4 separate regions of the Homo sapiens genome follow, and regions 1, 2 and 3 are each linked to region 4. Evidence: fine-mapped QTL for protein levels in blood plasma. Region 4 holds a variant in brackets. A gene starts in each other region. All regions are shown on their forward strands.

Region 1 (8,105 bases), not on the chromosome of region 4:
GTCTGTCACCCAGGATAGAGTACAATGGCTCACTGCAGCCTCAAACTACTAGGCTGGAGCAATCCTCCTACCTCAGCCTCTCCTGTATGTTTACCTTAAATCACAGAGTATGAGTGGCAAACATAACATTGTAAAATAATGCAACCATGAGTCTCATGCTTGATCACAAGGGCCATGATGTAACTTTCCAGTCATAAAGGTTACAATTTTCTTTATAAGCTTAATGCACAGGCTTCAGTAAACACCAGTCTGGAGTACAAAGATAACTGGGAATTTATCAACTCAACTTTATCAAAGTACTCACATCGTCTTTATCATTCACTGGCACTCCAAGTTGCAACAAAAATTCAACAATTTCTGTATGTCCAGCTGAGCATGCCCAGTGCAATGCAGTTCTGCTGTCCTACAGAGAAGCAGTAATAGAAACATTCTTGAAATAGAAGGCAAAAAAGCAAGAAAAAAAATACTGGTGCTGGCAAATCTATAGTTTGAAAATACGAAATGCAGAGCACTGGATCCTCAGGTAGGTAACCTTAAACTATATTACTTACTGGTATAAGACAGATGAAGGTTTAAGTAACATGGGGAGAATGACATTGATGAACATACGTAATTCTGGGCAGAATACGACAAGGAAAGTAGTAGAGCAAGAAACTGATTTCAATGCTTTGACAGAAATACATCTTTGGTTGTTTTACTATTACATTATTTACGTACTTTTATGTCAGGCACTGTGCTGGGAGTTTTACATGTATAGTATCATTTAATTCCTACCATTCTACACAGTGCTTATTATCTCCATTTTTCAGATGAGGAAACTAAAACTCCTCAGGGTAAGCAACTTGTGGACGGTCATATGGATACTAAATGGTGAAGTTGGGGCACAACTGTCAGTGAAGTTCTGACTCTGAAATCTCTACTACCACACTGACCTCAAGTTAGATGCTGTAGAAGGAACACATGAATCTAATGGGGGAAGAAATGTTCATTAAACTAGTTGAAATTATCTAGAATTTAAAATCATAAATAAATTAGAAATATAATTTAGAAAACACAACACACAGAAAACAAGAAAATTACTTTTTATAAAAAATAATAAGCTATGGCCGGGTGCGGTGGTTCACGCCTATAATCCCAGCACTTTGGGAGGCTGAGGTGGGCAGATCACCCGAGGTCAGGAGTTCTAGACCAGCCTGGCAACATGGTGAAACTCCGTCTCTACTAAAAATACAAAAGTTAGCCAGGCGTGGTGGCAGGCGCCTGTAATCCCAGCTACTTGGGAGGCTGAGGCAGGGGAATCGCTTGAACCCGGGAGGCAGAGGTTGCAGTGAGGTGATACGGCACCACTGCACTCCAGCCTGGGCAACAAGAGCGAAACTCTGTTTCAAAAAATAAATAAATAAAAATAAATAAAAATTAAAAAAGCTATAGTAGTCATTATTTGTCAAAGGGAATCCCTATTTGCAGTGACTGCTATACTTCTTAGCCCCACAGAATAGAAAATGGTATTTTAAACTCTATTACAAAAAAATTTCAAACACAAAAATAGAGGGAATAGAATAGAAACCCACAGGCCTACTGCTTAGATTTAACAACAAACATCTTGCCCTATTTGCTTTAACTAGTTTTTTCCTTGCTGAGCTTTCCAAAAACAAATCCTAAATATCATGACTTTTCACCCTTCTCTTTCAGTATGTAAAAAATAAAGGTATTTCTTATATAACTATGAGACCATTATTACACTTACTAAAATTAACACTAACTCCTTTAGAATGTCTAATATCCGGTCTGTATTCAGATTGCCCCCAACTGTCTCCCAAATGTCTTTTTGCAGTTGGTTTGTTTAAATCAGGAACCAGACGAGATCCATAAATTGCATTTCTTCATGTTTTTTACGTCTCTTGATGCTGAATAGTTCCTTTCCCTTTTTAAGCCACTGACTTGACTGAAGAATGGTTAAATTTCCAATGGAGTATTAAATCTTAATATAAAGTATTACATTTAAATTTAAATCCTTAAATATCACCAGACCATAATGAAGTAAACCAGGTAAAGATAAGGCCATTTTCAGGTTGAGTAATAAAGGAAAGTTCCAGAAAAGAGAAAACAGTCTCTTGATTTCTAATTCTCTCCCAAAAGACACAAAATGGAGATCTGTAAGTATGGGACAGTCTCACTAGTGCTTACGACACTGTCTGCGAAACACAAGGCCATCTATAAATATTTGTGGGCTTACTAAAGGCACCATGAATCCTAGAAACTGAGGATGAAAGCACGAGAGTCCTGTGAGCAGGAGGGCAGAAAGAAACACTTCTAAACTTCTGTCTACCTCTGCTTAGAATGTCCACTCATTCCCCCATGGAAATCCCACTCATGCTTCAAAGTCTAACTAACCTTCCCTTCTTTGCAAAAACTTTTCCAATTAACGACAGTCATATTCAGCATCAGATCCTCCTATTAACGTGTTCTGAAAGCACCATGTAAACTTCTCTGCCGAGTATTTACCACAATTTGTAATCGGACATGTTTTTGTGCTTATTTTATTGTCTGCATCTTCCACTCCACCGTATCCCCAGCTCCTAGCAAACTGCCTGGCACGGAAGGGGCGTTCAATTTCACATGCGTTACTGAATACAGTTACTAGTAAAGGTAAATAAATCCATATAAAAAGCCTTCCTTTTCACTGATTGGGAGTTTCTGAGAAATGCGGTAGACGTTCTAGAACTATCCAAAAATCAGGGAGCGGAGCTCCGGGCCAACGGGAAAATATCTGAGGTCTGTGGGGCTAGCTCCCGCAGGCCTATCGCGAGTCCCGAGGTGACCCAGGGGGACTGCTTGGGGCGGCGGGGGCGGGGTTCTGCTTCTCTCAGAAACGGGGCCTCCGCTAGGGCCGGGCCCCGAAAGCCACGTAGGGCTTCGCCGACGTCGCCGACTGCGGAGAGACCTAGCGTTGCTTTACCTGGTCAGTTCTAGTAGCCAGGGATTTATCGGCCAGAATACTCTCCTTCAACTCTTCCAGCTTCCCGCTGTAGGCCAGGTTGCAGACCATTAGGTTAGACACACACCCCTCCATTTCGCTGTCCCAGCAACTACTTGTCGCGCGAGCAACGCCCGCCTCACGTCGCCGGCTCCGGCTACGCCAGTCAAAACAGCCGTTAGAGCTTCACCAATCACCGGCCTTCCTCGTTCCCTTTTCTTTTCCCGTCGCGCGGCGCCTCTGGGAGTTGCAGTTTGAGAGCAGTTCCGGGCAGGGAGGCGCCTTTGCTGCCCTCACAGACTTGGCCCCTAGCAGTGCAGAACTACAAGTCCCAGGGATCCTAGCGACCGTCCGTCCGTAGTCAAGTTGCCGGTGGAATTGGCCCAGGATGACAGCTGGAGAATGGAGTCAGGTACGGGGAGCGGCTTTGAGTGGAACCGTGTGAAAGAGCCGGGGTGGGTAGTCGCTGGCGGGTCGTTGAGTCGGCCATATGAAACAGGTTCGGGGGCAGGGCAAGAGTTATGAGAGCCTAAAGGTCCTGTCCCCCGGGGTTCCTGACCTGCAGTGGCAGGCGGAAGGGACAAGGGTTGGAGCTGAGTACTACCTACTGAGCTCGAACCGGTGACTGTGGCTACCCTCCCCCTCCCTGCCACCGCCTAGGGAGTGGAAAGAAGTGGGGGTTAATTACTCTGACATCTCGGCGGTGTGGCATCAGGACAGGGTTCTACCACAGCAGTGATAGCATATGGCACCGTACTGAGGTGATGTGCCAGGGTGATGCCAAAGGCAGGGTGTGATGCCGTGGGAGCCACCTGATATCTAAGAGACCTCGGTGAGTCCATAGCCTGGTGACATCACAGCTTGATGAGGGTCATCTTAAGGATACCGGGCTGTGGTGTTGGCATTTTAATATCACGATATTAACTATGTTGTCAAGGCTTTGCTACAACTATTAAGCTAATAGTGTTTCTTTTTATAGAAATCCCAAATAGTGCCATAGCAGAAGCAATGCAAGACTGATCCTTTATAGGGCATATCCAGAGGACATTATGCCACAACTAGGTAACGATAAGAATACATTCAAGAAAGAGACTCATGATGTTTATGTTTATCCTGTTATAGTGTAGAACAGGAGTTGGGAAACTTTCTGTAAAGAGCCAGATAGTAAATATTTTAGGCTTTGTAGGCCAAAAGGCAAAATCAAGAATATTTTGTTGGTACTTTTATGACAAAAGAGAAAACAAATTTCAACAAATTTTTATTGATGAAATTCAAAATATAATAGTAATTGAGTACTTTTTTTGTAATACAGGAAGACTACCAATGAGAAGAATAGAATTCTTTTTAGGGGATAATATTTTGCTTAATTGGGGCTCAGAATTAGTGTTCCCTATTGTCAAAATTGATTTTAAGTGTTCATCTGTTAATGCTGATCTGTTAGGAAATTTTTACCTATTTAATCTTTGAAAATGTCATTTTACATAGATAGGTACTGCCAAATACTGATATCAATTCATAAACATATACTTTTTTATTTTTATTTTTATTTAATTTTTCAAAAATTTCAGAATAGTTGTAGATTTATAGAAAAGTTGCAAGGTTAGTAGAGTTCCTGTATAACACTCACTCAAAATGAGGCACATTTTACATATCATAAAATTCACTGATTTCAAGTGCATAATTAAATGATTTTTGGTAACTTTACTGAAGTGGGGCAACCATCACCATAAATCAGTTTTAGAACTTTTTGATCCCTCCAGTAAGGTCCCTCATGCCTATTTATAGTTAATCAATCCTCTGTCCCATTCCCAGCCCCAGACAACCACTAATCTACTTTTTTGTTTCTATAAATTTGCCTATTCTGGACATTTTATATAAATGAAATCATACAATATGCAGTCTTTGTGTCTGATTTCTTTCACTTAGCATAATATTTTTGAGATTCATCCATATTGTAGTATGTATCAGTACTTCCTTACTTTTTTATTGCTGAATAGTATTCCATTTTATGGATATAACACATTTTTATCTGTCTACTCACTATTAGATAGGCACATCAGTTTCCAATTTTTGGCTACTATGACTAGTGCTGCTAAGAAGATTAGTATGTAAGTCTTCGTGCGGACATATTTTTTTCATTTCTCTTTGATAGATACTTAAGGGTGGAGTTACTGGATCACAGGGAAAATTTATGCTTAACTTCTTAAGAAACTGCAAAACTGTTTTCCAAAATGGCAGCAACATTTTGCACTTCCACTAGCAATGTATGAGAGTTCCTGTTTCTCCACATCCTTGCCAACATTTGTTATTTACTGTGTTTTTTGTTATAGCCATTCTAAGTGGGTGTGAAGTGGTGTCTCATTGTGGTTTTAATTTATAAATTATAATTTATAATACGGTGAGCATATTTTCATGTGCTTATTAGCCATTCATATATCTTCTTCAGTGAAGTGTCTGTTATATCTTTTGTCTGTTTTTAAATTGAGTTATTTGTTTTTTTAGTGTTGAGTTGTAAGGATGGTTTATATATTCTAGATCAAGTCCCTGAGAGATATATGATATGCACATATATTCTCCCAGTCTGTTGCTTGCCTTTTTCTTTTTTTGATGGTGTCTTTTGAAGTGAAAACGTTTTGAATTTGGGTGAGGTTCAATTTATCATTTTTTTTTCTTTCATGGACCATTCTTTTGGTGTTGTACTTAAGAAGTCTTTGCCTAATTGCAAGGTCTCAGTGATTTTCTCCAATGTTTTCTTCTAAAAGCTTTATTACTTCATCTCTTACATTTAAGTCTATGATTCATTTTGAGTTCATTTTTTCTCTGTGATGTGAGGTGAGAGTCTAAATTCATCTTTTTGCATGTGGATGTAGAAATTGTCCTAGCACCATTTGCTGAATCTCTTATCATTAACGTCTTACATTGCTATGCTATCTATGTCACAACTAATAAGCCCACAGTGGTATATTGCTATTAACTATACCCCATGCTTTTTTTTTTCAAGTTTCACTAGTTTATCTCTAGAGATGCTGTCCCATCCAGGATACCACATTACGTTTAGTCATTGTATCTCCTTAGCCTCTTCTGGTTTGTGACACTTTCTCACACTTTTCTTGTTTTGGTGACCTTGATAGTTTTAAGGAGTACTGGTCAGGTATTTTGTAGAAAACCCCTCAATTTTATGCTTAGACTGGCATTATGTGTTTGGAAGAAAGTCTGCAGAGGTCAAGTACCACATTCTTATCATACACTATCCTCAAACATGATTTTAATTGAGCATATTCATTGCGTGGAATAGAATTCTGTTCTTCTCTTAATAGTGCCTTTTAGCATTATGTGGCAGGTTAATCACTTCCAATTGAAAGTTTGGTGAAAGCTGCTCAATTGCACAGTTAAAGGGATTTTGGAATATGGAATATCCTTTGCACTTGCTTCAGGGTTCAAAAACTGCTGCTGGAACTGTAGTCTGAATTCAGAAAATATATATGCTGCAAATTCTTATGGAAATAGATATCTTGCTTCTTGTTTTAACTTTTATTTCATTTTATTTTGAGACAGAGTCTCACTCTGTCACCCAGGCTGGAATGCAGTGGCACGATCTTGGCACACTGCTATCTTTGCCTCCCAGGCTCAAGCGATTCTCCTGCCTCAGCCTCCTGAGGCGCATGCCACCACGCCTGGCTAAGTTTTGTATTTTTAGTAGAGACAGGGTTTCGCCATATTGGCCAGGCTGGTCTCTAACTCCTGACCTCAGGTGATCCTCCCAAAGTGCTGGGATTACAGGCATGAGCCACTGTGCCCAGCCTATTTTATTTTTTATTGAGACAGGGTCTTCTTCTGTTGCCCAGGCTGGAGTGCAGTGGCACGATCACGGCTCACTGCAGCCTCCACCTCCCTAGCACAAGCAATCCTGTCATCTCAGCCTCTGGAGCAGCTGGAACTACAGGCATGCACCAACACACTCAGCCAATTTATGATTTTTTATAGATACAGGGTCTCACTATGTTGCCCAGGCTGATCTCGAACTCCTGGGTTCAAGTGATCCTCCCACCTAGGTCTCAGAAAATGCTGGGATTACAGGTGTGAGCCACCATGTCCAGCTGAGATTTCATTTATTTCTTCTGGGTACTTAACTAGGAGTGGAATTGCTGGGTCATATCGTAACTCTGTTTAAGTTTTTGAGAAACTTTCAGACTCTTTACAAGAGTGGCCGTACCATTTTACCTTCCCATCAGCAATGTTCGAGGGTTCAGATTTATCCACATTTTTTTTCTTATTTTCTTTTCTTTCTTTTTTTTTTTTTTTTGGAGACAAAGTCTCACTCTGTCGCCCAGGCTGAAGTGCAGTGGCATGATCTCAGCCCACTGCAACCTCTGCCTCCCAGGTTCTAGTGATTCTTGTGCCTCAGCCTCCTGAGTAGCTGGGATTACAGGCATGTACCTCCGTGCCGGCTAATTTTTGTATTTTTAGTAGAGACGGGGTTTTGCCGTGTTGGCCAGGCTGGTCTGGAACTCCTGTCCTCAAGTGATCTGCTCACCTTGGCCTTCCAAAATGCTGGGATTATAGGCGTGAGCCACCACATCCAGCCAAATTTCTCCATATCTTTACCAATACTTATTAATATCTATCTTTTTGATTATAGGCATTCTAGTGGGTATAAAGTGGTATTTAATTGTGGTTTTATTGTTTTGACTTGTGACAGCATGGGAAGTGGATAAAGCATCTTGACATTACTTGTGATTCAAATAATATTGTCAAAATGACTTTACTACAGTTTTTTTCATATATAAGCATTGTTTTGCCTTGTAATTTTAGGTTGAATTAATTAATAAACATTATCCAGCCTGCATCAAAAGTTAATTTCCAAAGCCATTCAGTGTTCCCTAACAGTGTTTGAAGGTGGTTCTTCCAACCATTTAAAATTATGAGAATCATTCGTACCTTGCTTGCCACACAAAAACATGAGATGGGCTGAATTTAGCCTGCCAGTCATAGTTGGTATAGAGCAGAAGTGCCCTGCATATTCAATAAATACTTCTCTAGTTGATTATGGAGGTACAGTATCCCTGTGTTGTGGTATTCACAAAGTATTGGGTATAGTGACCTTTCACCATAAAAATGCATCAAGTAC
Region 2 (8,088 bases), not on the chromosome of region 4:
AAAAGAGAGAAATGAAAGACAAAAGAAATGATTGAAGAAATTAGACAAATTCAGGGAACTAGAGAACTTTAAGGATTTGGAGAGAAGAAAACTCATAAGGAAAGGTTTAGCAAAGAGAAGAAACAGGGGAAGACTCTTCTAGTCCAGACTCCTCATCCATTGATCCCAGGAAACAAACACACTACAATAATCAAATGCAAGTCTCTCTGAATCATCCACCCTCTAATATCTAACACTCTTTTCACCCTCAGTCCCCCTGATATCTATTCATCCCATTGTAGGCAATATAATTTATCCTGAGCATATTTTTTCTTTTTATCTCTGTGCCTTCCCTGAAAGTATCCATTTACCCAAAGAGAGGCCCCCTCCCACTCTTTCCCCATCAAAAAAAGAGGGCAGAGGGGTGCATTTACTTTTCCCAGATTCTAATTGATAGTGTCAACACATTCTTTAGGTTCCCTTGCACTGGAAATGCATGTCTATCTTATATGTTCTTATTCCCAAATCCTCACCACCATCCACCAACTTCCTGGGACGCACTTCCAACCTCCTACTCAGTTTCAGCTCATCCTTCTGGTTTTCCTCTCAGTCCTGGCAGTTTTCCTCTCCAGCCTCCATCTGCAGGAACTTTACTTCCACTGCCAATTAACTCAGCTCTCCTCTTCTTCCAGCATATCCTTTGTACTTACCCACTTTTTCTCTTATGCACAGTGATGAAGCCCTCTCTCACTTCTCACCCCACCATCCTACCCCTTTCATTCCACCATCATCCATCATCTCCAATCATCCATCTCTAACATCCCACTTGTTCCAGGTCAACTTGCTTGCCATGGTTCAAGGTTTCAATGGAGAAGCAAGAAGCAAGAGATCATTGTGAGAGAGGGGAGCTCCGGCATGGTGAGAGGGAGAGGGTAATGTTGACAAGGAGTCATTGGGAGACTGAGGTTTTGGAGGTTAGAGAATGAGAGTGATGGACAAAAGAATTGAAATGCAGGAGATGCTGAAGAGATGCTTGTGGAGGAAAACACCATGCATAGGATAGAAACTGAACATTTGGAGGAAGCAACAAAGATGGAGCTTGCTAAAAGGGACAAGTTGGAGAGAATGGAGTAATTATGGATACATGGAGAAGCAAAGAAGATGGAAATTAGATAAAGAAAAAAATGCAGAAAGGGACCAAGAGAAACGGAAGAAGGGTACCCAAGGCAAGGCAACAGGAAACAGTGAGAGATGAGCAAACCCAGGCAGCTCCCGCCATCCTGCCTCTTTTACTCCCCCATCATCTCCAATCATCCACCCGTATAATCCCACCTGGGATGGTGCAAATCAGTTGTTCCACAACTACACAGGGTTTGGAGCAGTCATGGTCATTTTAGGCACAGAGTCACCCACTTGCACAGAGCATCTTCCACCCTGCTTTCCTCACCCAGTATTCTCCGAAGTCGGTTTTTGTTCTTTGTGGCAAGCTCCTGAAAAGAATTATTGGTCTCTTTGGCCCTTCCACAGGCAAAGCTGAAGAAGTCGGTGCAGGGGGCCACACTTGTGTTCCCAGAGGCCAGGTAATGATCCCGGAGATCCAAACACACAGATGTCTCACAGGGGCCTGTGGGGAAAAGCTCAGAGCTGGGAAAGAAGAGGCAAAAAGACAAGGGCTCCCCCAAGGGGCTAGGCAAAGAACATCAGGTGAGTAACTAAGTGGGGAGCTGATGAAAAAGAAATGGTTAGGATGCAGGGAGGAAGAAGAACCATGGGGACCCCAAGGGTCAGGGTGGGCAGAAGCCCCAGGAGCAGGGACTGGGCCTGGGCCCCAGGGCTGGGGGAGGGCTGACTAGGTTAGGGGGTCTGGGATCTTGCTTACGAGGGCCACAGTTCTGGAAGTTGTAGAACAAAAGCACAGAAAAACAAAGGAGCAGGCCCAAAATCAGGATAGCTGTCAGCACCCGCCTGGCCACTGCCCATGGCCTGCTCCCTTCCACGGGCAGCCTCTCTTCTGGAGTGCTCTGTGGGAGGAACCAAGAGGTGAAAGATACAAGATGGGGGTTGAGAGACAGGGATGGGAAGAAGAGGAGAGAGAATGAATCTGTTGGTGCTACAGTCCCTTTATACAGAAATAATTATCCCAATTCTTCCTAAACCCAGCCCTACTTTAACTCCTGGGAGATGAGAAAACAAGGAATGTCAACTGTTTTGGGTGAGGATGAAGCAGACAGTTAGTAGATGAGTGTTTGTGGGATTTTAGAGCCGAGAGTGACAACATCAGTGTATTCCAGACCCAGGAGAGGAGGCCACTTACCTCTTGGCTCCAGAGAGTTCCCATTCCACCTGCCTGGCTGCGTTCCCTCGGCTCTTCCTCACTTTGGTCCCCACCTTCCTGAAGTGAGTGGAGGGAGAAGGAGGAGAGAGAAGCTGGTTCAGGAAATGGTGCATTGAAGAGAGTTTTATCAGGCCATTTTGATACCCTCGCTGCCTGCCCTGCCCCCACACACATATTTTTATCTCGGAGCAGTGTTCCCAGATGGGCTTCAGAACGAACCTGTCCCCTGAATGTGCCATTTCTCGATCCCTCTCCCATTACCTCCCTCTCTCCCCACCTTTCTACTCTGTAAGCCTTACATTCCCTCCCCTCCAGTGGGGGCAGGACTTTTGCACACAGCCACCCTCACCCCTCCCCGCTAAGCCTCTGACTCCAAAAGGGGACTTACCATCTGTCTATCTTCTGTGGCTCCAGAATCCTTCCTGGTTCCACTCTAGGAGCTGATTCGGAGGACTGGGGTCCAGGAAACACCCCCCGCCCCAGTTCCTTGATCCTGGAGAAGGGGCACTTCTGCTGCTCTTTCGCCTTGTCCCCAGACACACAGGACTGGCCTCTGGGTGGAGCCTGCTTATCAGTGGGGGGCACCCAGGCTTCTCCTCCCCCTTTATCTCAGCTTCTCAGGGGAGAAGAGGGAGGGAGTCTTCACTCCCCAAGCAATCTTGCCCTTGGTCTGCTCCTTTTGTCTTGCACTGTGACTCTGCCCATGAAGTTCCTTTATTTCTAAAATATTCTTCCTTCTCTCATTTCTTCTGTATTAAAAAAAATATGAGGCACAGTAAAATTTTAAAGAGTTTATTTAAGTAAGAAGCAATTCATGAATTGGGGAGCACCAGACCGACAAAGGTTTAGTGTTGCGATGACAAAATGTCAGAGGCAAGCATTTATTGGGAAGTTATAGAAGCAAAATGAAACATTATTTGCTTAGTTTGCAGTTACATAATTGCATTTTTTAGGTAACTTTTTGGAAAGTCCCTAGTCACATAATCATATGTTAGTTGGCTGCTTATCATTGGCTGGGGTTAAGTTTTATTTGTTGTAAGCATTTATCAGAAATTGACCCAAGTTAAGTTTAATTTATGTTTGTAGTTTTAGCAAGAATATGGCTATTTTTAAGGTCTTTGGCTTTGTTTGCCTGGGAATTTTTCAGGCCCAGTCTCCATTTTAATTTTGTTTTCACACCTCTCTGATTGGCTTTTCTGGGATTCATCAATTCCCAGGTCAAATGCCACCTTTCCCAGGAGGCCTCCCAGCTCCATGCCCATTCACACTGTTCCCAAGCATGCTTAATTGTTTCTCTCGGTGTTTCATAGCTCTGCTGGCTGCTGGCAAAGTCATGCATTCAAAAGATCACCCAGCTAGGAGACCCTAATCTGCTAATTATTAGCTCTGTGACAATAAACAAGCCACTTAAACTCTGAGGCAGGTAAGCAAGTTTTGTCATCTGGAAAATGAGGGTAATACTTGCCTATGCCTACCTCATAGGATCTCATGCCTTCTACAAAAGAATAAGGCTTTACTGAGCCCCTCTTTCTTTCATTCTGCTTTCTGTTACACTGATAGCTTGCCTCTTCATCTCCTTAGTGATTGAAAACTATGTCATAGCATGTACAGTGTCTGGTTTTCATTCCTGCCCACCCAAGATGCTTTCTAAATGTTAATAGAAATGAATTGCATTCCAAGCCAGAAATCCTCTTTCTCACATCATATTAAGCCCTTACCTGTGGTCTGAGAGAGGCAAGCACATTTCTGGGGGAAGGTGTTTCAACTCTGTCCTTGTTTCCTCATCCCAGGAAAAAAATAATGTAATTTATTAGGTTAGTCTTGCAAATGATCCCCTGGCGATATTTCCAGATTCCATCAGCACTGTGCTAGGGCCATGGTGCACTTGCCAGGATGAGGGTGGGTGTGGAGAAGTGGAGTAAAGCCATTGTGCCCCCTGGGGCCAGCTGGTCGGGTATCATGAAAGTCATAAAGAAAAGTCAGAACTTCATACATTAGAAAAGAAAGCATTGGGAAAAATAAGGCTTTTGAGGAAAGGTGTGGCAAGATACAATAATATCTAAGAAACGCCGGTGTGGTATTGGGGATCTGGACTGATTGGATAAAAGACAAGAAACAGAGTGGTTAGTTTGGTGTTGCAGGAGTGATGAAGGGAGGGCCCGGCCCAAGGGGATGGCAGAGGGGAGGGAAGTGCGTAGAAAGAAAAATTGTATGGAATAAAGTCATGGCAATGGATTGAATGGAGGAGGGGTTTATGATAGAGCCACAGAGGAGCTCCAAGTTGCATTTCTGCATGACTAGGGGAATAGTGATGCCAGCGAACAATGGAATTTTGATTAAGGGGGGAGTAGGAATCAGAGTGAGGGGAAAAAGCTGACTCAGGATTCTAGAGGTGTTTGGTCTGTGTGGGTACACCCTGATGGTGCCTCCTCTTCAAACTTCCCTTCCACAGAAAGTCCAATACTCTCCCCATGGGCTTTTAGCTTCCTTCACACATATTCCCTTCCTCACTCCTTTTCTATCAATCAAAGCCCCTGAGCTGATGTTTCCCTAGGAAGATGATAATGGAGACCACTTAGATTTGATAAGAGAAAGTTGAAGATGGAGTGTGCTCTGTGACATTTGCCTATGGACAGCCACCACAGCCTGGACTTAGGTTCTCTCCCTGTCAGAGAAGCTGAGCCAGCCACAGGGATAGGGCAGCACAGCTGCCAGGTCCACCATTCCTACTCAGCCTCCTCCTGAAGGCCAAGCAACCTCCATCCTGGGAGCTGTCTCAGGAGCAGGACTTCTTCTTATCACCCATATCCTACTCCATGGTGAGTCATCACCAGCACAGCCATACCCAGTCACGGGAGTGCAGCAGCCTTCACTCAGATCTAAGCCCCGAGAAGAGGTGTGTTAACAGCTGTGGCACATGGACCACATTTATCTTTTCGGATGCTGCCTCCTTCTTGCCCTCAATTGTCCTGTCTGTTTATTTTAATTCCAGGAGGTTTTGTTTCATGCCATAATAGTATCAAAATAAAATATTGGTAATAATAAAAATAACCACTTTTTACGGAGCACCTTCTTTGTGCTAGGAATGTGCTAAATGTTTTGCTTGTACATTTTCCTTCAGTCTTCACAGCAACTTTCTGAGGGAAATAACAGCTTTTATTTTCCCCATTTTATAGATGAGCGGTCAGAGAGATATGAAAGTACAGTGAACTTACTCAAAGTTACAAAATTAATAATTAGCAGAACCGAGAATTGAACCAAAGCCTTAACCATTGAGCCTCTCAGTCACTAAGTATCTGTTTTTTGGAAGTTTCTTCATAGTAAACATCTTCCTTCATCTAAACTCTTCTTTTTAAACTATGTTTCACTGCTTGGCCTTGTGAGGTGACAGTTTTGGGGACTAGTATTCTCAAACTCTCTAACATCCAGTTTCATCATCTGAAGATCATGGCCTTTGCCACAATGTTCTATCCATAATCAGCTGCCATCTACAGTGGATGTGGTATCAAAATCAAGGACAGGACATTAATCTGTCTATTGTGACACTCTCAAGTGTGCACATGACTGGCAATTTGCTTCTAAGATCACTCGATTGCAGTGATAGCCACTAAGAAGCTACCCCCTAAAGAACAATAAACCCAGTTCTGAGTGAACCGAAGTAAGCCTTGACATCACAAGCAATGTTGAGGACTTTGCCCAGAAGATGATGGAGAAACAGATCATGGGGGGCAGGTTTTGGGGTGCACTGATTGCTCTTTCAAAGGAAGCAATACTTGAGAATTGGGGAGCTCCTTTGGGAAAGAGTAGCTTGTAAGTTCAGTATACCACAAAGTGGCTTTTGAAATAATTTAAGTGATAAGTAGATGGACCTCTTTCAATATGTGTGTGTGTGTGTGTGTGTGTGTGTGTGTGTATATATATAAATATATATTTATATTATATATATTATATATATATTTATATTTATATTATATATATTATATATATATTTATATTATATATATATTATATATATTATATATGTAATACATATTATACATATAATATATATAATATATATATATATTTTTTTGAGACTGAGTCTCGCCCTGTCAGCAGGCTGGAGTGCAGTGGCGTGATCTTGGCTCACTGCAACCTCCGCCTCCTGGGTTCAAGCGGTTCTCCTGCCTCAGCCTCCCGAGTAGCTGGGACTGCAGGTGCACGCCACCATGTCCAGCTAATTTTTGTATTTTTAGTAGAGACGGGGTTTCACCATGTTTGCTAGGATGGTCTCGATCTCTTGGCCTTGGCCTCCCAAAGTGTTGGGATTACAGGCATGAGCCACTGCACCTGGTCCAATATTTTCATTTTTATATACATTTTTCTTTTATAGATATATGACTCTAAGAAGACTAAAATACATAGCCTCTGTATTTTTATTAAATCAACTAAAATATACTAAACAAATAATAGCTGTATTGGTACTTGAATATGTCAAAAACTTGAAGAAAATGCTCAGAAGTCTGGAGTTTTAATTATGTATGGGTAGAAACAGCTCAAAAGGAGGATCTTTGTCCTTTTTTATTTTCTTTTTGGTATTTTCTACATGCCACCACATTTTTCTTCCTAATCCAACAGGTTTTGAAGATAGTACTCTGAATACAGAGACTCTAATAAGTTGTGTCAATTCAACATATGTTTCCTCAAGAAAATTTACATAAGTTCTTGCTAAAACCAAGGTCTTAGTCAACTACTACCATAATAATGCTTTGTTACAAACCACCCAAAACTCAATGGTTAGAGGAACAAGCATTTATTCTTTTTTTTTTTTTTTTTTTTTTTTTGAGACAGAGTTTTGCTGTTGTTGCCCAGGCTGGAGTGCAATGGTGCAATCTCGGCTTACCACAACCTCCGCCTCCCAGGTTCAAGCGATTCTCCTGCCTCAGCCTCCCGAGTAGCTGGGATTACAGGCATGTGTCATCACACCTGGCTAATTTTGTATTTTTAGTAGAGACGGGGTTTCTCCATGTTGGTCAGGCTGGTCTCGAACTGCTGACCTCAGGTGATCCGCCCGCCTCGGCCTCCCAAAGTGTTGGGATTACAGGCATGAGCCACCGTGCCCAGCAAGCATTTATTCTTATGTTTAAATGTCTCACTTGGAACAATGAGAAACAAAAGAATGGGACAAGCTGTGTGGTCTCCCTCTTAGCAAATGTACCAGTTACTTATTACTCCATAATAAACAACCCCTTATTTGGTGGCTTAAAAAAAATTGGCTCTCCATTCTATGGATTGGCAAATTAGGAAGAGCTGAAGTATCCTCTGTGCTCATTTGCATCTTTGGTTTCACATAGCAGGCCATTTCAGGGCTACCTAGTCCAGGATGGTCTCACACACATGGTTCTTGGTTGGCTGGGGCTGTTGGCCAAGGTGCCTCAGATCTCCTCCATGAGGCCCCTCTAGCAGGCTAGCTTGGGCTAGTTCCCATGGCAACTAGATTCTAAGAGAGCAAGAGTAAATGCTGCAAGGATCTGGAGACCTAGGCTTGGAGTTATACAATATCACTTCTGCCATATTCTATTTGTCAATTCAAGTCCCAAGGCCAGCTGAGATTAAAATAAACTCCACCACTTGAGGGGAGGATTTGCAAATAATTTGCAGTCATGTTTAATATGCCACAGGAGAAAGACAGTTTTCCTTTGAAGCAACCTATCATGAACAGATCACTGAACCCGGGAGTTGGAAAACTTGGTTTTCAGTCCTACATCAGTTTTAAAGTAGCTGGGTAATTTTTA
Region 3 (8,103 bases), not on the chromosome of region 4:
CTGACGCCATGGACAGTGTGTGATGGCACTGTCACCTTCAGCCCCGAGCAAGCACCTGTTGCAAAGGAAAGGAAAGTTGTGAAGACCTTGAGCCACATTTCACAATCTAAAGGGGCAAATGCAGAGAGAACCTGATCAGGTGATAATCCTTTTCAAAGAAGAGTGGCTTCTAGGTACTGACTATTCTAGTACTGGTTACATATAGAGGTAAATATTTGTCCCTGAAACCTTCTGCACTTAAAAAACTCCACCCAAAGACCGTGCTGGTTGCACAAGATAAAAAGGAAAAGCAGAAGTTATTTTCTACGATTGCTACGGAATAATGGGAAAAGGAGAACTAAGAAAGTTTACTACTTCTAAAGTCCAATGAAACCATTAAAACATTTGGAATTATGACTATATTAATGTCTGTCATATCATATCATAATCTAACTATGTGATTTGAGAAATACTAGAGGTTATTTCCTCCCAACAGTTTCCCTTAAAGCTGTCTGAAATGACTGAATATTCCATTATTGGAAGTTCTTCCTTTTAGCCAAATGCTTGCCAAATGCAAATATCCCAAGGAGAGTGGTATTAAACCATTATCAGTCATGACCAGTTATTTCCACCCAGAACAGGCATCTGGTTGGTGTATTTGAGAAACAGCAAGAGGCAGGTACAGATGGAGCACAGTGGAGGAGGAGGAGCATGATAAGATATGAGGTCAGTGAGGTGGCTGTGACAGACTGGCAGGACCTTAGGATCACGGGAAAAACTCTGGCAATTTTACTCTAAGATGGGGATGCAATAGGAGTTTCATGAACAGAAAAGGGCTATTTTTTTAAATGTTTTATTAGACCTAGTCTAGCTGCTGTGAGAATACACAGGAATAGGGCTAGAGCAGGAACAGGGAGAACACTTAGTTAGGAGGTGACTGCAATGTAATAGGCCAGAGACAACTGTGCTGGAAACTAGGGTGTTAGTAAAAGACGTTTTGGAAAAAGGCTGATTGTGACAAAAGGATTTGGTGACACTTTGAGGGTGTCAGAAACAAAGAGGATGCCAAGCTTCTTGACTCGGACCAACTGGAAGAAAGGAATTGCAGTAAATAAATTAATCATGGGGAAGACTGTGGGGAGAATAGTTTTTGTGGGGAAGACGAGGATTCAGTTTTGGGAGCGTTCATTTTGAGATGCCCATTAGACATCTAAGAGGCAATGTTGTGAAATCCTGATTAATGTGAATTTAAGAGAGAATGAGGGGCCTGAGAGGGCCTTGGGGCATGGAGCTCTGCCCAGTGGATAGCCCTGGGCAGTGCTGGGGATTTGTGGACCCATGCATTCACTGCTGTATCTTCATGTTTCTTCCCAGTTTCTGGCAACTGGAGATTTCCCCGTCTTACCTTAAGCCATGATATATTATTTTATTTTATTTAGCATTTCTATGTATTTGCAGGGGGAAGAGAGTCTTCCTTAGCTCAGGTTACCATGTTGCTGGAAGCTCTTTGCTTCAAAATCCTCATATTAAAAGGGGCAATATGATACCTACATCATAGGAACATTTGACGTAATAGAGGAGAGAGTGAGAGAAATTTAAATGTGGAATATTTTGAATGATGAGAGAAAAAATAGACAATGAAAAGAAACTGTAGACAATGAGTATAGACAACACTTTAGGGAAGTTTTGCTGTGAAGAGGACCAGAGAGATGGGACAGAAGCTGGAGAAGGATCAAAAATGTGAAATAAAGAGAGTTTTTTGCTATTGGGAATGTTTCACTGGAAAGGGAAATGTTGATGAGGCAGAATAGAGATGGGTGAAAGTGGAATAAAATCCTTAAGCAGGTGAGAAGAGATGGAAATTAGATATAAATAGAAGCATTTTACAATTTTAAATTTCTCAAGTACAAAATGTTCATCCTCTTTGATCGCTTCCACTTTTTCATTTTTTTCTACATTTTTTTGATTTCATTCTACTAGAAAGGGAGTCCTCAAGCTTCATCCAAGTCATGTCATGAAAGGCCATCAATTTTAAAAAGGGAAAGGTAGAAAGATCTGTTTGCCTTTTGTGATTATTTCCTTGGAAAAACTCAAAGATGTAGGCCTGTTCCTATGAGGAATCCAGTTCTACCAACAGTAAATTTATCTCCTTCCTTCCCAGAGTGGAGGTAGAAGCAAAGATTCCCACAGTTTGGGCCTTTGGCTAGCTATTAGTAGAGAGTGAGACTCTGGGGTTGGCAGAGAAGTTAGAGGAAAGAATCCAAGAGGAGAAAACACCAAAGAGGAAGATAGTTAGTTAGAGGGAGAAGAGACTCCTAGACTTGCAACTGAAACTTACCATATGGACTGAAAAGCAGATGACTGTAAAAGAAACATAAAGACATGTCTTATTGTCTCATTGGCCTCTGTGTGTTTTTGTGATTAACTTCTAAGAATTTTTTTTTCTTCTGATAATGGACCTACTTGCACACTTTGGTGATTGGTCCATAACAAAGCAGTTACAAAGATGAGAATTCCCTTCTGTATTCTTTTCTGCCAAGTGTAAGACTATTAAATCTGGAATTTTTCCTAATTTGAGTGATTAGAAAAAGAGAAAACTGGGTGCTGGGAATTCTAAAGAGGAGATAAAGTGGACTGCAGAAAAGAAGTAGTGGTTTTCGCAAGGAAATAGTAGGAGAGAGAAAGAAAGATGGGAGAGAGAAATCTATGTCTCAAAATTAGTGATGTCTAAGATATGTGAAGCAGAGGCTGACAGTCGGGGTGAAACTCTTAAAGTCATAGGTTTAGTAAGACATTGGGCCTTTGGATGGGAGATCAGCACAGGAAAAGATTCCTCTTTGTCTATCTGTTTTCTGTACAAAACAAAATGCATTTATATGTCTTTCATTGAAGTTGAAGATAGGCAGTTCCTGACAAGTTCCTGGTAAGCGACAACAAAAAAAAATAGGCTTAGTACCTGTTATTACTAACTTAAGATATGTAAATTGGACCTTTCACTGTATTAAGTGTATTGCTCCCTCCTTTTTTTTTACTTGTGTAAATATGAAAATATTTACAAGTGTTTCATGGCTCACTCCTGATCTTGGACTCCCATGTTCTATGTCCGCCATTGAGTCTTAAATTTATCACTTGCAAATAGCTCTAAAATAATGATTTTCAAGCACCTATTCTCTTAACTTGAAGATTACTGTGCTTGTTACTTTAATAAAGTTAAAGATCTACTGAAATATGAAGTCCTAGTAAAGGACACATACTTGGGGTAAAATGGTGATTGGTCAGTTATGTGACCTTAAATAAGTCATTTTAATTTTCAGACTCAGTTTTCTCATGTGTGAATAGGAGGTAATATCAGATAAGGTGTAAGGCCTTTCTCGACTCTCTTAATTTTATGTTATTGACAACCTGAGGTGCTTTTCTAAGGGTAGCAGCTACCTATATTTGAAGGTGAAGGGCCCAGAGAGTTTTGAGAGGACCCAAATTGAGAGAGGGCCTAAATAATTTTGAAGAATTGAGTCCCAGTTTTTGGTTCATATATTAAGTTGTCAATCCTTGGATATCCTTTAATAAAACAGCAATTCTGTGTTTTTTACAAAGAAATCAAGGGGAATGATGGAAGTCTGTATAATTGCCTTGGGAATGCACTGGAAAAAGCTGCATGGCTGCTAATAGGGAGCAGCTTTGTCATGGATGTGTTGGTTCACTTAGGACATTTCACAACTCAGCCTAGAAACCACCATTAGGCTGAGAAGGTCTGAATGGATTCTGACCCATTTTGTGCTTGTCATTTGGGAAAGCCATTGCAAAAGTCCTTCTCTGCTTTTTTTGTAATTGACTTCCTTTGTAGTTATATTTGAAAAGATTGAGATTTATTTAATATTCTGGAAATGGTTGGGAGGCACTATATTACTATGGGGTGACAATATTGCTGGAATAGAAATGTTGATGACTTTTGGATCTTGACCCAGAATGTTGAATCTTAAATATGAAAAGACTGGTTAGAGAGTCCATGACTAAAATTATAGGAGGAAAATTTTATTTAATGAAATATTAAATACAATACAAATATTGAAGCTCTGAGAAAAAATAACACTACATTAGTAGAAAAAGATATTTAATATAGCGTTTGTGATCATTATTTAGGGGAAAATTAGTTTTGGGGTCTATTTTAGACTGCATCATGTAATAATACCTTAAATAATATATTGCCATCAATATCTCTGAATAGGTTCAGTGCTTTCTTATTAAATGAAAAGTTTTTTTCAAATATGTATGCTTTTTCAAATGTTTGTGTGACAGTGAGAAATAGCACAGCTGTTACAGTAACTATTTGCTTAGAGATTGCCTATACAATTTTTTATCAGATAAATTATAGGTAGCAAGTTATAAGAATGTCAGCAGGGAATGAAATTTTCTTTATACAGTATCTTATCTCAGCCACGTAAAATCTCTTCATTGGACATGAACCTATCAATATGATACAATCTTTGCTTGTAGTGAAATTTGGGAATAAACAGATAATTGAATGCTTCCTCCACATTCTAGGAACACATACTCTCTTATCATTGATGTGTCACCCACTACAGATGTGATGAATTCATGCTGTCAAACACAGTAGTTTACTAATGTGAGAAAACTTAGCTTCATTTTGAGAAATTTTCAAGTGCTCTTTTCTAGTTGTATGAGAAAACCCAAAGGACTAAACCTATTGATTTTAGAAAATCATCCTCTGCATGAACAGATAAACTTCAAGAAAATAAATAATATAAAAAGGTTGGTTGTGGTGGCTAATGCCTGTAATCCCAGGCACTTTAGGGGACTGAGGTGGCAGATTGCTTGAGCCCAGGAGTTTAAGACCAGCTTGGGCAACACAGCGAGACCTCTGTCTCTATTTGAAAAAATACAAAAACAAAAATAATAAATAATATAAAAATTGATGAAATTTAAATTTATTTTTAGTAGTCCAAATATTTGGACTTAAACGGAAATTTAAATTCGATTTTATTATTATATTCACTATTACTTTCTGAGTATAACAAACAAAAACTCTTATAAATTATAGTTCTGTTAAAAAAATCTTGACTTTTTGCATATAAGGCATTACACAAATCTGGAGAAACATTTATAATACTAATCATAATCTGACATACAAAATTGCAGCAATGATCCCTCCTTTACAGACCCTCTTACATTGTATGACAATAGCACTATAAAAAAGTATCCAGTGTTAAGGTACACTTGAAGTCCTACTGTAGAATTTATCTATATTCCAGCAACAAAGGACTCCCTAGACCGGTTTCATTGTATTGAATATAAACATCAGATTTCACAAAGTGACCTCTGCTGTAGCTCAAAATAGCTGGCATTTACTTCCCTGTTATCATGTGTGGTATTAACAAGCATAACACAAGTATTGTTGACTGAAAATAAAATCTTGCATCTTTAGAGAAAATAGAAATTATGATGTGTTTTGAATAAACTGTACAAACTGTACATTTTAGGCTTCAAATTTTTAAAAATTTTTTAAAAAGAAGAAGCAAACAAAACTTCAATATTCCTAAAAGCAAAGATTGCCAAGTCATCTGTGGTCTTTACAACACACTGCCTATGGAGAAAAGCAAATTTGCAGAAGAGAGAAGGTCTTAAGGTATAAAAACTGCTTTAGCTATTTATGAACATGCTATTTTCCTAATGTACATTTGTTTTATTTTAGTTGAATTCCTTAACTAAATTGTCTCTAAGTTCTTCTTAACGCCAGTTTCAAAAACAACACTTATAAAATGATAGTAGTCCTACTGTTTTAAATATAAAAATAAGTGGGATGATGACCCAGGATACTTTCAAAAGGAAGACAAATGCACAAAGGTAGTGACAGTTATAATAATTATTTACTTTTTCAAAAAATTTTAGAAAACAAAAATCTATTATAGGCTTAAATTTGATAACATAAATACTGTGATAACTGGAACAATCACAACTCTGGGAAACTCAAAGACTTAAAAAAATTTACAAACTGTACATTTCAAATGTGTGAGATAGGTACAACAGTAGGTATGAATTTGAATAATAACATTTACAATGCAAACTTTAACAAAATATAGGAGTGAAAGTAAAGCTCTAAATAGCTGAAGAAGCCTAAAAGTTAAATTGCTTATTTTGCTAAGCTGTTCTTAATTTTTAAAAAATGTAGCCTTAATTGAACTCCTATCTGTTGAATATAAACAAAACAAGAAATTGATTTGACTTTTAAAACTGATAAATAGGAAGAATGGAAATGAGAACATCTGGTGAAAATAATGTTGACAGACAGCAGTTGGAATGCTGGAAAGAGACTCCTTTAAACTCAAAAGATAAAGAGGAGAATGAGGGAAAATATTAAGGTAGAAAAAAATTCTTAATAGGACTAGCCATTGGGCAAAGAGAAAAGCTAAAGGCATTTTGGAGTAACAATCTTTTCAAATACGTTCTCCCTTTTGTGTAGGAAATTTTTTTGTTAGTTTGGAATCTTACCTTTCTTCCATATTTCATAAGATGAGACAGATAACTTAAAACGAAGCAGTAAACAGTTTGCAACAATATCTTTAATTAAAAAGAAAACAATTTTCGTAAATTATTTGTAGTTTCACTCTAAGTGGTCACAATTTCATGGCCTATTAGAATATTTGCTGAAATAAATGCATTAAAGACTATTGAACCTATATGTAAACTCTAAAAGAAGAAATTCATTATCTTTTAAAAATATCTGAATTATCTTAATGAGTGCTATGACAATAATTGTTGTTCCAAGAAAACAATAACAATCTATTTATTGAAACTCATTTCTCTTAAATGTTCCTGCTTCTTTGCTGTAACAGTGTGTTATTGTTAAAAGGTTCTGACCTGCTCTTCAATTATCTGAATGCATCTACAGCCTAAAGCAAATATTTACCTTATGTCCACAATTAAAAAAAAAAAACCTAACAAACAGCTAAAACACAATTCACACAGGGCCTTACCGAAGAGAAGGAGGTATATTTTGCACTGAAAGACCCCAAGTGTGTCACCGAAGGGCTCCATGAAAGCATCCTGTCCCATGCATGCAGTGCCCTGTTCTCAGTGGTAACTTGGACCAGCAGCTGCTGGTTTATTTGCTAGGGAAATTAGCAGTGAGGTAACAGACCCTATCTTGCCTCTTGCTTCTGTGATTTGAATACAGAATGAATGTGTATACAAAGGACACAGGGAGTGGGAACACCTGTTATGTGCTTAGCAAGAATACAGGCTTATGGCTTTCAGAAGAGTTTCTTAGCAACTACCAGTAATTGTCTATATATTTCATAAATTATACTTAGTTATTAAAAAATCACATGAAGGAAAACATCCTTTTGCGTGACTTTACTGAAAAATGGCATGTTTTCATAATGAAAGAATATTGTGAGATTTCCTTAAAAACAAAAGCTGGTTTTCTATCATGCAGAACTATGCCATTATTATTTTAAAATTAAAAAAAATTATATGAAAATTGAAGTAGCTCATGTATCTGCTAAACAGTTATAAATCTTCATGAAGTCACTAACATGTAAAAATTCTACCAATGAATCAAAAGAGAGATCCAGAATATATTTAAAACGTATTTTTTCTATGCAGTGTTTCCTATTACAATGACTGATTTCATTTAATCTTTGAATTCATCTTATTTTTAAAAGCAAATCACAGGTGTGTTTCCAACTGGGACTGAGGCATGGACCATGCATAATTATAATGAAAAGTGCATGCCAGGAGATAGTATCTGAGGCCACATTTTCACAGCTGATGCATAGAGGAAGTGAACCAATGATCTAGAAAAGATCTTACCTCTACTGCAGTGTCCAGGTTACAGGTTTTCAACCTGGTCTCTCCATTGTCATGGCAGCAGATAGTCTAAGCATGTCCGCTTAATTTACTAAGTTATTAGTTAACCCCTATTTGCAAGAAGGCTCTGGTTCTAGCCTTGTTATATAAAATGTTAAGGATATATCCAAATCTGCATCAAATCATCAAATCAAGGAAAATTCCTTGCATGCATCAGTTTTAACAGTAAAGGCCCACTGAAGAAGTTCAATGATAAGAGGGGAAGGAAGACTATACCTCAAGCATAATTAAAGTAAA
Region 4 (8,091 bases):
GGGCCTTTTCCTAGCTCGCTGACTCTGGTAGACAAAGCCAGCCCTTGGCCATGTGAACGAGGAAAAGAATCCTGGGATTTCATGAGAACTCGGGAAAAGGCTTGTATCTTTGGGCAGCTCGAGCCTGTGGCTGCCCTGGTCTGCCCTAGGCCTAGGCTGTGGCAGGGCCTCCCCGCCTCCCGTTTCCCGGCTTAGCTCCCAGGGCCTCCCAAAGGTTTCCTTTGCAGTGGGTTTGGGTCCACCCCTTCAGGCGCCAGCCCCTCAGTGGCAGAGTGCCGGTGACGGGGCCCGACTGAGGGGAGCACTTCTCCACAGGCCCGTGAAGGTGGAGCGGACCCGGAAGCGGTCCGAGGGCTTCTCGATGGACAGGAAGGTAGAGAAGAAGAAAGGTGAGGCCTGGCTGCCCAGCACTGCCCACACTGAGTTCACTGAGGGGAACGGGGACAGCCGTGGCGTGGCTGGCCTGTCCCGCCTGTCCCTAGAGAGGGTGCTCAGCACATCCTCGGCCGGCCTGGCCGGCGGTGCCTCCAGGGGTGGGGGCTGAGCCTGCAGACCTGGGGCCCCCATGACAAATCCTCCAGAGGCTCTCAGGCTCCTGCCCTTGAACAGCTGGCCCCCTGTGGCCCTGCCTGGGCCCACACGGTGCTCTCTCTCCTGGCCCAGAGCCCTCCGTGGAGGAGAAGCTGCAGAAGCTGCACAGTGAGATCAAGTTTGCCCTAAAGGTCGACAGCCCGGTAAGACCCTCAGGGCCTGTGAGCCAAGCAGTCCCCGCTGCCACCTCCCTGCCAGGCTCCCTTAGATGTCTCGGGAAACTGAGGCAAAGCCGGGGTCCTGCAGTTGGGTGGGCCAGGAGTCTGTTCCGGTTGCTAGTGAGCGCATGGGGTCTCCTGGCCAAGGGCCCTGGGGGAGCTGGTCCTGACATGCAGCACCCAGCTTTCCCGGCAGGTGGTGTGTGGAGGCCCCCAGGACCAACCCCCACGTACCTGGGACCCCAAGTATCTGGCTATCCCTGGAGTTCCCCGTCAACTGGACGGGGGCTGAGGGGAGCTGTTCTGCAGATACAGCTCCCCTCAAGGAGAGCCCAGGATGTCTTCCTCCACCCATCGGGGCCCTGGGACCCCTGGGGATCCCTTGGCCAGGCCGTCTCCCTCACTCCCACCCCACCCTGCAGGACGTGAAGAGGTGCCTGAATGCCCTAGAGGAGCTGGGAACCCTGCAGGTGACCTCTCAGATCCTCCAGAAGAACACAGACGTGGTGGCCACCTTGAAGAAGGTATGGCGGGGGAATCAGAGGCGCAGGGTGCAGTCGGGGGAGCTGGGAGCAAGTGCCTGCCCGGGAGCCCAGGCCCCCAGCAGGTTCCTGTCGGGACAGCCCTGGGTCAGCGAGGAGGCCGTGGGCTGCTGGGTAGAAATGCCTGGTGCTTGCCAGGAGTGGTGGCTCACGCCTGTAATCCCAGCACTTTGGGAGGCTGAGGCAGGCGGATCACGAGGTCAGGAGATCAAGACCATCCTGACCAACATGGTGAAACCCCATCTCTACTAAAGATACAAAAATTAGCCAGGTGTGGTGGCGCACGCCTGTAATCCCAGCTACTCAGGAGGCTGAGGCAGGAGAATCGCTTGAAGCTGGGAGGCGGAGGTTGCAGTGAGCCGAGATCGCGCCACTGCACTCTAGCCTGGGTGACAGGGCGAGACTCTGTCTCAAAAAAAAAAAAAGAAATGCCTGCTGCACAGAGCTGTGCTCCCGGGAGGGGCTGCGGGAGGGGCGCATTGCTGGGGCGAGGGGTTCAGAGCCGGGGCTAGGGCCGCTGCACTTGGGTGAGCCAGGCCTCTTCTCTTGGTGGCCAGATTCGCCGTTACAAAGCGAACAAGGACGTAATGGAGAAGGCAGCAGAAGTCTATACCCGGCTCAAGTCGCGGGTCCTCGGCCCAAAGATCGAGGCGGTGCAGAAAGTGAACAAGGCTGGGATGGAGAAGGAGAAGGCCGAGGAGAAGCTGGCCGGGGAGGAGCTGGCCGGGGAGGAGGCCCCCCAGGAGAAGGCGGAGGACAAGCCCAGCACCGGTGAGGGGCGGGTGGGGTGGGCCCTGTACCTCAGTCTCCTCAGCTGAAGAAACAGATGCTTTGCAGAACATTCCAGAAGGGGAGTACAGCTCTACTCTCTGCCCCAAACCTGCCAGAGTGTCATGTCCTGTTGGGGTCTCCGTGCAGACCCGGCTTTAATCCCTGGGGCAGCCAGTGAGGGGCATTCAGGTCCTACCGTGTGCCAGGCAGCCAGCATGCAGGTAACTTGGGGCTCACGCCAGAGGGGTGACGGGGACAGTGCATGACAGCACACGCCTCCACCGTCTCCCACCCTGGGACGCCCAGAGAGGGGGGTGGCTCTGTGCAGCGGGGGCAAAGAGTGGGGGCATTGTTCAGAGAGGCAGTCGGTGGAGGCTCGGGGGCGGAGGCCTCAGGTGCCCTTGCTTGCCTGGTGGGCCGACAGGAGATGAGGTGTGACCCTCGGGGCTGCTGGCTGTGGGGCTACTGGGCTGACATGGCCCCATTACAGGTGCTCAGAGCAGCCCTTTGGAGATGGGATGGGCGAGCTTGGGATGGGGCTTTGCGGCCCAGGGGGCAGCCGAAGGCTAGTGTCTTTTTTTTCTTTTTTCTTTTTTTTCTGAGATGGGGTCTCGCTCTGTCCCCCAGGCTGGAGTGCAGTGGTACAATCACAGCTCACTGCAACCTTGACTTCCTGGGCGCAAGCCATCCTCCACCTCAGCCTCCTGAGGAGCTGGGATTGTAGGCCTACACCACTATGCCCTGCTAATTTTTTTTTTTTTTTTTTTTTTTTTTGAGACGGAGTCTTGCTCTGTCCCCCAGGCTGGAGTGCAGTAGCGTGATCTTGGCTCACTGCAAGCTCCGCCTCCTGGGTTCACGCCATTCTCCTGCCTCAGCCTCCCGAGGAGCTGGGACTACAGGCACCCAACACCACACCAGGCTAATATTTTGTATTTTTTAGTAGAGATGGGGTTTCACCGTGTTATCCAGGATGGTGTCAATCTCTGGACCTCATGATCCGCCCTCCTCGGCCTCCCAAAGTGCTGGGATTACAGGCGTGAGCCACTGCGCCCTGCCAGGACGTGCTAATTTTTGTATTTTTTGTAGAGACAGGGTTGCTGGCATGTTACTCAGGCTGGTCTTGAACTCCTGGGCTCAAGTGAGCCTCACGTCTCGGCCTCCCACGTGCTGGGATTGTGAGCCCCCGTGCCCGACCTTGTCTTCCTTTGTCTTTCCCAGGCTGCTGTGGGCTTTTCTCAGGGCTGCCCACGTTCCCTCATTTCTTGGGCCCCCAGTTCTGCAGGCCAGTGTGGCTCGGGCTGGGGCTGGCTGCAGCATCCCATGTCAGGAGCTTGCAGACTGGACAGCAGGTGCTGGGGTCCAGGTGGATGGGCATGTGTCACCCACGGCGCTCAGCTTGGCCCCTGGTCCAGTCCTTGACAGGCAAGGGTTCTGGGGTGCCCAGCTGGAGCCCAGCAGTGTCCTGTGACCCCTCTGTCCCACCCAGATCTCTCAGCCCCAGTGAATGGCGAGGCCACATCACAGAAGGGGGAGAGCGCAGAGGACAAGGAGCACGAGGAGGGTCGGGACTCGGAGGAGGGGCCAAGGTGTGGCTCCTCTGAAGACCTGCACGAGTGAGTGTCCCGGGCCGTGGGGTTTGGACTCCTGAGCGGCAGCGGTGTGACGCGCACCCTGGGTCCGAGCCGCTCCTCCTGTGCCAGTCCCTCTGGGATGGGTCCCAGGGATGTCGTCCTTACTCGGGCCTCCCACCTTCACAGCTGACCCCAGGGCCCCGCTGGCTGGCACTTCCGGCGGCCCCTACAGAGAGGCAGCTCCAGGGCTTTGAGCTGCCTGCCCCTGGCCTCCTGGGAAGGTGGCTTCTTGCCGAGCCTCCAGGGTGGCCCAGGTAGGTAGGCCCCGAGCACGGGCACCCGGCTATCTGACGGTGCCTGTGCCCATCACTGTGGGCTGCTGTCTGGTACAAGGCTCAGTGGAGTCACTCACTTACCCAGCAGCTGCCTTGTGCTATGCCTGGCTGGCGCCAGCGTGGGGACCCTGGAGATGGTTGTGGTCTCTAGTGGCAGAAGACAGGCAGATAGGAGGGCGGCACTCGAGCCTCAGGTGCCACAACGGGGGTACACTCCTCGGTGCCCATCCCACCCAACCGCCCTACAGGCAGGGCAGGGGCGGGAGGGCATCCTCACACCGCCTTTGCTGTTCCCACCAGCAGCGTACGGGAGGGTCCCGACCTGGACAGGCCTGGGAGCGACCGGCAGGAGCGCGAGAGGGCACGGGGGGACTCGGAGGCCCTGGACGAGGAGAGCTGAGCCGCGGGCAGCCAGGCCCAGCCCCCGCCCGAGCTCAGGCTGCCCCTCTCCTTCCCCGGCTCGCAGGAGAGCAGAGCAGAGAACTGTGGGGAACGCTGTGCTGTTTGTATTTGTTCCCTTGGGTTTTTTTTTCCTGCCTAATTTCTGTGATTTCCAACCAACATGAAATGACTATAAA[T/C]GGTTTTTTAATGAAAAAAGAAATCACTTTTATTGGCTTGGTTTTCTAGCATTGCTGGTGCAGTGGGGGCCTGAGCTGGGGCGCAGGCGGCAGTGTCACTGGGCCCGTTTGGGACTGGGTTGAGCCATCAGGCCACCGTGAGAAGCGACTAAAAGGCACTCTGGGCCCAGCCCAACCCTGAAAGGCCAGTGGCAGGAGAGCTGGGCGGGAGCAAGCTCTTCCCAGGAGACAAGAGGGACAAACCAGGGCATCTAAGCTGTGCTGCCTGCGCCCTGCCCCGCACCCACGAGGCTGGGGGGTTTGATGCTTCCTGCATCTGGCAGCCCAGGGTCCAGGCAGGTGAGCAGGTCCGATGTGGGGAGGACGAGGGTCCGCGAGGCTAGGCTGGGAGGGTGGAGACCAGGCCTTCCCTGAGAGCCGCTGCTAGCCGACAGTGGTCTCCAGCGTTCAGGGAGCATGGGCCTCAGGGGCCAGCCTCGACTCACCCCAGCTGTGTCACCCACACACCGTGTGACTTTGGACAGGTTCCCCTCCCACTCGGGGCTTCTCTTTCCTCCTCTGCATAAGGGGCTGTCACGTGGGCACGGTCCCAAGCAAGTCACCCCGTGCTCCGAAGTTGCTCATTCCACAGTGGCGTCTCGTGTTTGTCGTCCTGCCCAGCGTAGCCGAGTTGCCTCCGTCCCAGTAAGAATTAGGCTGTGGTGTGGCGGGAAGGGACTTCCTGAGCTGCGGCCCCATGCTTGGTTGGCTGGACGTGAGCTGCAGTCACTGTGCCTGATTTCTGCAAATGGCTGTGTCTGGCATCCTAGCCTCCGATGGCCATGGGTGTCGGGCTGAGGAGAAGGCTTGGGAAGGCTCCTGACCCGTCCCCTCTCACGGCCCGTCACCTGAGGCAGTCCTTGCCGTGCCAGCTTCCCCGGTTCAGAGCTGAGCTGAATGCCCCGGCCCCTCACGGCCCCTGGTGCACACGGTGACCCCTGGGGCCCCTCCACCCTTCCTCCCCCTGGGTCTGGGGTTCCTGGGCTCGTGTCCTAGGAGAGCATGGAAAGGGGACGACAAGGTTCTCTTACCGGGTGAGTGGGGATATGGCTTCCTGGGGAGGCCGGGCTGAACGGCTCCTCCCCGCTGGACTGAGCGCAGCCACGGCACGTCTCACACCCGACCTGAGCCTGCCAGCCTCCACGACCTGGGCTAGCCTGAGAGCACGGGGCCCGGCGGCCGGGTCCGCCACCACCAGTGTCTCTGATGCCTGCAGCCTCCCCAGCCCCGCTTCCTCTGCAGCCCGGCGCTTGGGTGGGCCTGAGGACCCAGGGGGAGTGTGCGGCGGAGGAAGGGCTGTGCCATAGGCACGCAGCCTCTGTGGCTGTTCCCAGCCCTGTCTGATCCCTCCATAGGGCACAGTTCCCTGCGGGGAAGTCCTTTGTCTGTGTTCTCCAGGGGCAGCTGCTGGGCCCAGCCTCCCCAGGGGCCTCAGAGCCCCAGGTGCCTGGGGCAGGCCTGTGGTGGGCAGCTGGAGGCAGCAGCAGCCTGTTTGCTTGTTTTTTGCACCCCCCACCCCCTGCAAACTGCTCAGTCTCAAGCCAGGCTGGTGCAAAGCCCCAGCTGTGGCTGCTGTGGCTCCTGGCAGCTTTGTCCCCACCGTGAGGCCACCCCGGGGGTCAGCAAAGGCAGTAGCAGCCTGCCTTGGGATGATGATGGCAGTGTCGCTTTTTCTAGTACTTTCTACTATGAGGGAATGTGGTTCTTAAGACCCTCAAGGTGTGTGTGCTAAGGCCGGAGACCCACTTTCAGCATGAGAACGGAGCTGCCCGGAGCCTGGGATGCCACAGCACTGCCTGCACCGCTGATAGCTGGGGGCCCGTGCTGCAGGACTGGAAGAGCCCTGCTAGATATAAAAGGGTTGCTAGCGGGGCAAACAGATGCCCTTCCAGGCTGGGCACGCTGCTTTTTCTCTTTCCTAATTGCAGTGCTTGCTTGGGGACTTCAAGGGAAGGCTCTTGGCTGGTGGTCTGAGTGACCCCAGGCTCCGAGAGGGGCAGGCAGCGCTGGGGAGGAGGTGGGAGATGCAGGCAGGCCCGGAGCAGGGCGTGGGGTGGCTCAGTTAAGAAGGTCACTGCCTCCGCAGCCCCTCGGCGCTCAGCCAGCTGCAGCCCCAAAGGTCTAGGGCTTTAGGGAACCGATCCAGGTTTGGGGGCGGGGAGAAAGTTCTGAGGCAGCTCCTCCCTGGACAGAGCAGGGCGACCCCGCGCCGGGCCTGCAGGCTCCTACAGCTACTGCCCGCCAGCGGGCAAGGCGAAGGGCCCTACCAGCCAGCTGAGCGGGGGATTGTGCTGTAGGCCCTCCAGCAGCTGCTCTAACCCCTGCCAAGCCTGGTGCACACCCTCGCGGCTCTGCACCAGCCGCTCTGCGGGCAGCTCCTCTACAGAGCCAGCTGAGGCCACGATGCCATAGAGCTCACAGAGGCTGTGCCGCGCCCGCCCCACTGGCTGCTGGAGCTCGGCGGGCAGGCCCTGGAGGCTGGAGACCAGGCCACTGTAGGCCGTGTGCAGCTGCCGGAGAAGGCCGCAGACCCTGGACAGAACCCCGGCATCCCGCTCCTGTGGGAGGAAGGCGCAAGGTGAGTGGAGACCCATGGGCGGGGTGGGGGGACCCTAGCCCTGTGCCAGACCCACCTCCTGGACAGCAGCGTCCTCCGCACTGGCACCTGAGCCCTGGTCCAGACGTGGCTGCCCTTCTGGAGCCTGCTGGGCCTTTTCAATCTGGAGAGAGAGTACAGTGGGGAAATGATGGCTTCTTGGCAAATGACCTTTCACAACCCCCACCTCCCCCTCCCCCAGGGACCTGGGCACATTCACAGTCCTGGGAGAAAGGCCACGAGTTCCAAGTCAGTTGTACCACAGTGGGCGTGTTGTCTTGCAGAAAGAGGCAATAGTTCAAACTTCCCCATGAGGTCATCAGGGAGTGCACGTAACACAGTGTCTGTGGGGTCGTGTCACTCCTCACCCCTAAACCTGTGGCTGCCCAGTACCCTTAAGATAAAACCCAGCTCCTCACCATGGCCTTGGTGGGCTGGCCCCTGGGACACCTCTGGCCTCATCTCCCATGGCACCCCACTGCTGTCTCCACTGAGGCCACACTGGCTCCATTCTGCCCTCCGGCCACTCCAGCAGGCTTCTGCCCCAGGGCCTTTGCACACACTGCCCACTCAGCCGGGAGCCTGCTTCCCGGGCCCTTCACAAGGTCCGCGTTCGGCCTCAGCTCCAGGTGACCCTTGGTGAGACCTTCCTGGCCCATGGTGTGGCAGCCCCAGTCCCTCCCGTCACATCTGCCCCTCTCCTCGGGAGCACAGCGTGCGGCTTTGGTGTTCATTGACTTGGTGTTTATCCGCCCCTGGCAGGGGAACACTCAGGACTCTGTCCTCGTTGTTGCTGTGTCCCCAGCACGTGGCACCCACGCCCCACCCTGTCCACAGGGCCCCATCTTCCTCATCATCTCAATGGCTGGTAGGGATGCGGCACGCCGTCAAAATATCGACTCCAGACTGC

Which allele goes with the higher level. Alleles are on the strand shown, and positions count from the first base shown. The strength of an association depends on the size of the effect and on how common the allele is.
In carriers of allele T in region 4, the plasma level of the protein whose gene starts at base 3,331 in region 1 tends to be lower than with C alone (weak association).
As copies of C replace T in region 4, the plasma level of the protein whose gene starts at base 2,862 in region 2 goes down (weak association).
For the plasma level of the protein whose gene starts at base 7,073 in region 3, C is the low allele of the variant in region 4 and T is the other (moderate association).

Evidence for each region. PIP is the posterior inclusion probability: the model's chance that the variant is causal. Protein levels are from antibody-based Olink assays in UK Biobank. Linkage for the fine-mapping came from a reference panel and not from the study's own genotypes, which makes the PIPs less certain.
Region 1: it holds the start of ATG4A, and the variant in region 4 is fine-mapped to the plasma level of the ATG4A protein (UK Biobank, PIP 0.97).
Region 2: it holds the start of KEL, and the variant in region 4 is fine-mapped to the plasma level of the KEL protein (UK Biobank, PIP above 0.99).
Region 3: it holds the start of HEPACAM2, and the variant in region 4 is fine-mapped to the plasma level of the HEPACAM2 protein (UK Biobank, PIP above 0.99).

Annotation. Positions count from the first base shown.
Region 1 is chrX:108,088,448-108,096,552 of GRCh38, forward strand. It overlaps ATG4A (autophagy related 4A cysteine peptidase), which reads left to right and starts at 3,331. Exons shown (of 13, transcript NM_052936.5): 1 at 3,331-3,389. The coding sequence starts at 3,380. PSMD10 (proteasome 26S subunit, non-ATPase 10) reads right to left here and starts at 3,095. Exons shown (of 5, transcript NM_002814.4): 1 at 2,960-3,095; 2 at 305-403. The coding sequence starts at 3,073. RefSeq lists enhancers at 2,844-3,243, 3,294-3,533.
Region 2 is chr7:142,959,502-142,967,589 of GRCh38, forward strand. KEL (Kell metallo-endopeptidase (Kell blood group)) reads right to left here and starts at 2,862. Exons shown (of 19, transcript NM_000420.3): 1 at 2,703-2,862; 2 at 2,294-2,371; 3 at 1,859-2,000; 4 at 1,427-1,603. The coding sequence starts at 2,705. RefSeq lists a silencer at 2,626-2,821 and a cis regulatory region at 4,944-5,345.
Region 3 is chr7:93,219,397-93,227,499 of GRCh38, forward strand. HEPACAM2 (HEPACAM family member 2) reads right to left here and starts at 7,073. Exons shown (of 10, transcript NM_001039372.4): 1 at 6,972-7,073; 2 at 1-55. The coding sequence starts at 7,050.
Region 4 is chr19:4,497,643-4,505,733 of GRCh38, forward strand. It overlaps HDGFL2 (HDGF like 2), which reads left to right. Exons shown (of 16, transcript NM_001001520.3): 11 at 316-389; 12 at 664-734; 13 at 1,172-1,273; 14 at 1,849-2,062; 15 at 3,549-3,675; 16 at 4,269-4,565. The coding sequence ends at 4,368. PLIN4 (perilipin 4) reads right to left here. Exons shown (of 8, transcript NM_001367868.2): 7 at 7,219-7,305; 8 at 4,550-7,143. The coding sequence ends at 6,817. Among named protein-coding and RNA genes, the nearest start is that of PLIN4, 17 kb to the right of the region's middle. The variant T/C (reference allele first, on the strand shown) is at 4,547.